Homo sapiens: one gene and its partner. The protein of the gene in region 1 purifies or fractionates together with the protein of each later gene. This does not show direct contact. Each region holds a gene or a part of one and is shown on either strand. Other genes may lie near its edges. The genes, in order: PGGT1B and PTAR1.

Evidence for each region.
Region 2: the proteins of PGGT1B (region 1) and PTAR1 fractionate together in Homo sapiens (co-fractionation; one large-scale study listed by BioGRID). This does not show direct contact.

What each region holds. Positions count from the first base shown.
Region 1 is NC_000005.10:115,231,751-115,235,584, forward strand, and holds part of PGGT1B (geranylgeranyl transferase type-1 subunit beta), read right to left. Parts: intron 1-3,834. UniProt on the Homo sapiens protein: Catalyzes the transfer of a geranyl-geranyl moiety from geranyl-geranyl pyrophosphate to a cysteine at the fourth position from the C-terminus of proteins having the C-terminal sequence Cys-aliphatic-aliphatic-X.
Region 2 is NC_000009.12:69,708,855-69,712,182, forward strand, and holds the end of PTAR1 (protein prenyltransferase alpha subunit repeat-containing protein 1), read right to left. Parts: 3' UTR 671-3,328; downstream 1-670.

The DNA of each region.
Region 1 (3,834 bases):
GGCAGTTCTCACTTTGCACAGTTCTCTTATGCACACATTCCAGTTGCCATGGTTTAGCTAAATAACACAACAAACTTCAGTAACCACAGCAGCATATTAACCATAATTGCAAAAAGTACAAAACTCCGTTGCTGGCTCTTCACTCTGCAAATCACTACATAAATAACACATGTGCATCGCGATCAGTGATCAATCATACCACCTTTTTCAAAGTCTGTTAGGAATTGGTCATTGCTCATGTTATTCAGTTCACACACAGATAGCAGACTGTGGTTGTGTTCTTTGTCTCTCAGTGATAAACCCACATGATGTTTTATTAAAAGGCATAACAGAAAGAGGGGCTTGGCCAACAAAGATGAAAGTGCAGTAAAGAAATAAAAAGCATTAACACTGGGTATGAACTTAAAATTAGAGTTATAGAAGAAACAGCTATTACGGGAATGTTGATAATATTGCTGTTTGAGACTCTAGGTATACCACCAGAAGAACTAAGTGAAGGTGAAACATCTATAAGCAAGGGAAGAGCTTGTGATAAAAAAAGAGGAAGATGTTCTAGGGAACTGCTATGGGCAAAAAAACTTCACATAAAAGGAATTCTCAGCGACTTCACAACACTGAAAACACAAAACACACAACGTTGGAAGCTGATAGAAACTTAGATTGTGGTCATTTGCCAAGACACAGAAAAAATACTCCATCTTATAATTTATATAATGAGAAGAAGGCAATATTCACAATATTTCTAATGTTTTAAATTATAGTATACCATATACTGATTTTACTATTTAAAACATCATAGTATACTATATACTGATTTTACTATTTAAAACATCATACATTTATAACTGACAGGAAGAGTTTTCAAAGTTTTGGCAAAAATTTTAAAGGTCATAAAACAATCATAATTTTTCCCATTGATGATTAAAATCACCTTGTATCATTTCAGCTTGTGTGGTTATCATTATAGTATGGCACTGTCATGCAAAATGAGGATAGCCTGTTCAGAAAGAGGCCTGGTAAACACAGCACTGGCTATATGGAAGGCACTTAAAAGAATGTGCAAGTCAAAGTGGCAGGGCTCAAAGAGTGTAAATTTTGGTGAAGAAAGTTAAAAAAGGAGGGAGAAGCCCTTTGAAAATCAGGTGATAAAGGAAAGCTCAAAAAAGCAAAATTTAGATACCTGAGAAACAAAAGAGAACCTTTTTCCTATCAGAAAAATCATAGAACAACCCCAGCTACAAAAAAAGCCACCCAGTAAAGAAAGCATACTGCATTACAATGAAGAGAACAATCTTAAACTAGGAATTCTTATCAGAAAAAATAAAAATCACTAACATACAAAGTAACTCTGAGATGAAAATACAGCAAATGAAACGCTAACACCTAAGTATATGAAAATCTGCCTCTACTCCCAAGAAATAGGCATGAATCAGAAGAAAACTGTAATGTAGCACTCCACACTCAAATACATACCCTCAAACAACCATTTGGAAATAAAAAACGAAATTAAAAGCTAAAAACAGATGAACAAACAATAGAAATAAAAAGAGAAATAGTGTTAGAAAAGAAATAGAAGAAAAAGACAAAATAAGAAATAAATTTTAAATTACAGGATGACTAAGGAAGAATAATCTCAAATGAAAATACAAGGGACACTGAAAAAAGGAGAAAACATCCAAGAGAATAAAAATGAGATAAGTCAAAAAGGTCAAAGAGAAAGTGGCTGAAAAGAAGGTCAGGCAAAAAAATAAGAACAGACACTAAAATGGAATTCCTAAAAAGAAAAAAAAGAAGGAAAAAAAAAAAAAGCAAATGCAAAATAATGGACTAGAACTAGGGGTCAGCAATGGCCCAAAGGCTAACTCTGGCCTGCAGTCTGGATTTGTATGGCCCTCGAGTTAAGAAAATGGTCAATTACACTCATAATAAAAGAAATAATAAAATGAAAAATCATGAGAGGAGGGCAGCAAAATTAAAAATATACTGAAATATCACTTTTCGACTACCAGAAAAAAAGGTAAAAACAAAAAAAGTATAACGCTTTTTATTGGTGAGGCTATGTGAAAACAGGCACTCTCTTATATTGGTAGGAAAACAAACTGGTCTATCCTTTTTGGAGAGAAAATGGGCAATCTCTAATAAAATTACATATGCATTTACCTTTTGATCAGGCAATTCCACTACCAGAAATTTACCCTGAAGATGTATCTATAACAATATAGAAATATATATGCAGGAAGTTATTAATTACAGCATTATTTGTAATTGCAAAATATATGCTCTAAATGTAGAATAGCTGAAAAAAACCATGGTACATCTGCACATCCACACAGTGGAGTAATATAATAGGAAACTATAAGAAAAAGAGAAAAATCTCTCTGAACTGATAAGGAGTAATTTTCACATTGTATTGGTGTTTTTTTTTTTCTCCCAAGCTATATTGTTAAGTGAAAAAAGCAAACAGCAAAAAAAAAAAGAATATGGTATGCTACCTTATGAAGAAAGGAAAAGCATTAAAAATATCCATATCTTCTCATCAATAAGAAATGTAAGAAAGATAAACTGAAAACTAACGAGAATAGTTACCTACAGGGTGACAGGGAACAAGATGTTAAGTATGGGAGTTAAGAAGAGGGGGGAATACAGGGAGGGTGAGGGGCAAGGAGTCACACTTCTCTGTATATATCTTTTTGTATAGTTCTGACCTTAAGAACCAAATTAGTTTTTCACATATTAAGTAAATAAATAAAGTCAACGAAGTTGTGGGCAGGAGAGAGCTAAGTGAAGGAAAAGCCTAAAATGGAATTCAAAGAGAAACAAATAACCTAATGGTACTTCAAACAGATAACATAACCATATTAAAGGGGGGAAATAAAATAAGTAACTGGAGTACTTCTTAAATATAGTACTTTGACTATATGCCCTCAGACTCAAAACAAAAAGAACCAATGTATTCTGGGTAATAGGAGCCAGGACTGCTTGTCACTATCAGAAATGGAGTCATAAATGAAAGGACGAAAGTTAAAATGAGCCCTGTGGTGTTAAGACTGAAATTTGAGGCATCACGATAGATTCATGATTTTAATATATAGACATATAAATAGATACAGAAATATAGATTCTGTGTGTCTGTAAGGGGATGCCTATGTACACATACATTTCCTATCTCTGCCCGAGAAAAGGCCTAGAAGTAATGACATCGCAATACCAATGAGCATACTTAGTACCCAGATTCTAGTTTCTAAACCCTATCCTCCAACAAGAATAACCAAGGCTCCTCAAAGAAATGACTGATTCCAGAGCTGAGGATGGAAAAGTAGAAGATAAACCTGGAATATCTTGTGCCAGAAAGCAAGGAGGTCTTCAAAGAATGAGGGTAACATGTCAAAAGGGCATAGAGCCTACTAAAAGGGGTTCCACAGGCCTAATCTAGGACAATCTGAGCATCAAAATAATGACAGTAACAGATTACAACCCACTGAATAAAATAAGAAACTGAAGTCCATAGAGATATAAATAAGTAAGTATAAGTAAATAAATAAATGCAGAGAGAAAGTTTTTTTCAAACAGTAGAATTTTAACTGATATTTATAGGAAGGATGCTAGAGCTGGAAAATCATCAATGCATACTAACAACACTATTGGATAAAAATTTGATTAGGGACTCACTGAATATTTAGTCTCCAGGTATCTCACCACAAGATATTCGGTAATTACAAAGGGAAAAACACTAACTTTACAGAGAAAACTCTGGCATATGCCACCTTAACCAAGTGAGCAGACACAGGGCAAATCAACTTGCTGCACCTCCAAATACAGTGCACTGAGAAGACA
Region 2 (3,328 bases), on another chromosome or scaffold:
ACCTAGTCAGTACTGCAATTTTAAACAATTGTACTTTGCCATCATGCAAAATAAATTTGATATCCTGTTTCCTACCCAAAATATACATAATAGTAGTGCATTATATAAAATGTAATCCTAAATAGTCAAGGGATAAAGTAAGATAGGTCTTTCCCATAACACACTTCTGAAATATTTAAAATTTGAGTTAAAAAAAGTATCCACTTTATCAAACACTTTTTGGAGTCTATCTATGTATTATATTGTGTAAGTAAGACCACTATATCTGGCTTATAACATACAGAAGTGAGACTCAGGATTGAGAAAACATAGGATGTAACACTAAAATAACCGAGTAATTATATGTGCTCTACAGCTTCATTTGAAATGGATGGGAAAAAGCGTATCTAGTCATAATAACTTTTATAAGGCAATTAGTCACTGTTAATACAATTTAAAAACAACTGTGGCGATATCTCTAATTTGTTTTTGACATTTCTTTTATGTTCTAGACATAGTGGCATTTTTATTCTTTCTACAAATGTAGGTCATAAAATTATTGGTTTCATTTAGACAACAGTTCACACCTCCACCCCCCTACCACCATCAAAGCAAATAAAATGGAAAGCTTGGTAGACTAGACTCAAGTTTAAAGCACCAAAAGTAAAAACAAAATCACACTTAACACTCATTTTAGGAGATAAAAGGTTTACTTAGAAATTGCAAACATTTAGCAAAGGTAAGACAAATACTATTTTCCATATTCTACAGAAATACAATACTTTATAGCTGGCTTGGTACATGGTCACATAAGAACAAATCTAATGGAAAAAGAATATTTCATTCTACTTTTCTGCCACTTATCACAGTGTAATAAGTGCCAGTAAGTCCTGGAAGACAGTTGCAGAGGAAGATTAGAATCCCAGGGCTGTTTGTTAATATACATGATTATATTGTAAGAATAATATAAAAACAAAATAGGTAAGATATACAATTAACATGCAATTTAAGCTATATTATTTTGAAGAAACAGGACAGAATTTAGTGAACGCAACTTAAAAATTTGTTAATGTAGTATAATCAGCATATCATGGTATTTTACATGGTATGGAATTATTCCTCCTTAATAATGCTTGGCAAATTGGAACAGGCTGATCCTACTTCTAGAACATATTAAAATGAAGATGAAGGAAAACAAGTGGATAATTCTATTAGATGCTTTTCTAAATATTCTGAATTTTTAAAGTACCATAATTACAGGCCTACCTCACCATCTCCAAAGTTAAAGTCATATTTTATACTCTATGAATCTGTACTGTCCAGTATAGTAGCCCTTAGCCATATGTGACTACTGAGCACTTAAAATGTGGCCAGTCAGAATTGAGATGTGCTGTGAGTGCAAAATACACTCAAATCTAAGACTTAGTATGGAAGAAAAAGAAGATAAGGTGTTTCATTAATAATCTTTTATATTGATTACATGTTGAAATGATATTTTTAATATACTGGGTTACATAAACTGTTATTAAAATTAATTTTGCTTGTTTCTTTTTTAATATGGCTACTAGAAAATTAAAAATTATGTTGTGGTTCACATTATATTTCTGTTGAACAATGTGGACATAGATAATCTACAGTCATTACATTAGCCTTAGAATTTAGCATCATACTTTTAAGCACTCTGGGGTACTAACTTGAACTCCCAGAAACCCATAAGCACACTCTGCATATAAATTATTGCAAAATTCATTCTTATCTCTCTGAAAGATATGCATTTTAAGGGTAAAAAGAATTCACAAAATATTGAATCCTTAACAAATGTCAATTAGTATATGGAGAGAGCTAAAGGACTTCAATGTAGACTGTTACATTGGGGAAAAACAGATCAAGAAACATAGCAGTACAACAGAGGGAAGACCATTAGTCTCTTCAGTAAAATAGTTAGCCAAACTTATCTTTAATGGCCAATGCCTGACCCTGCACCATAGATTATATATGTAACTTTTCCATTTAAACATAAACTATAAGAAAATCTTAAAACAATATTGACGGCAGCTTACTTATATCTTCAAGCAATGTAAAATTAACAGGCATGGTTAATTTTAATGGCAGAATATAGTAGCTGAGAACTTCTTTTAAATGAAAGCTCCTCCATGTTAAATTATGCAATTGACTAGTGTCCACAAAATTCGAGTCAAAAAAAAATTAGACGCTATTAAAATCATAACTGGCCTTTTTTTTTCTCCCTCTCCTTTTTTAATCTTTTGTAGTGTATAAATATTTGGCATACTTATAATACCTCATCTTTTATTTTTTCCAACTCAAAAACAGTAAGTTAATCTAAGAATGCATTCCATTATTTTCCTAAAAACAACATATGCCAAAGTACAATACTGACAGTGGTCACCTCAGTCAGCAGCCAGCATCGAAGTCATGCATCAAGAACCTCGCCAGGAGGCAATGCCTAATTACATTTGTACTATACACTCTGTTCCTCACAGTTCAGGTAGGAATGTTTATTTGTGTTTTATAAAACTGTTTAATCTTTTTACATTAGGTAAACTCTGTCAAAAATGCTTTGAAAACCACAAATTAACAGATGCTGAGACTACTGTATCATTCACAAAAAGTTCTTCCTCATGCCAAAGATGTTCTGAGAAAACAAGCAGAAGTTTATTGTAACTTCACATTTTACCATTACCACTCTTAAGACGCTAGAAACAAGTAAGATTTAAGGAAAAATAAAAAGAACCTAAACCCGATAGTACTGGATATACCAATACAGAGACTGATTGCAGAAGACTACAGCAGTTCTCTCTAGAGTTCAGCCAGCTGCTTATTAAGACATTTAATTACATTTATTAATATGCCTTGCACAAGAAAATACTACTTAATCTTTCACATCTCCTATCTTTCAACTATGTTCTGTATAAATAATACTTCTATTACGTTACTAACTCCAGCTTAAATAAGCCTCATAAATCATGTCAAATGATATAATTTCAAAATTCCACACATATATTACTCTACAAATATACTCCTTGGTGAAAAGATGTCAACAGTCTCCTTTCTGAAAGCTGTTAGTTTGATGTTAGATCAATCACTGACTAAGCATTTATTGAGCATCTACTATAACTGTACCCAGTCTTTAACTAATAAGAAAAAAATACCTGCTCCAAATGCAAGATGATATTTGTAAGGGAGGATAATTTATCAACTTTTTCTAATAGAATGCTCCTTGAATCAATATCTGCCATATGAAATTATATGACAAGTAAACCTCAAATTTATTACCTATCACCTTATAATGATAAATAAGCAATCTAAAGTATGCTGCATAGTACCTTGA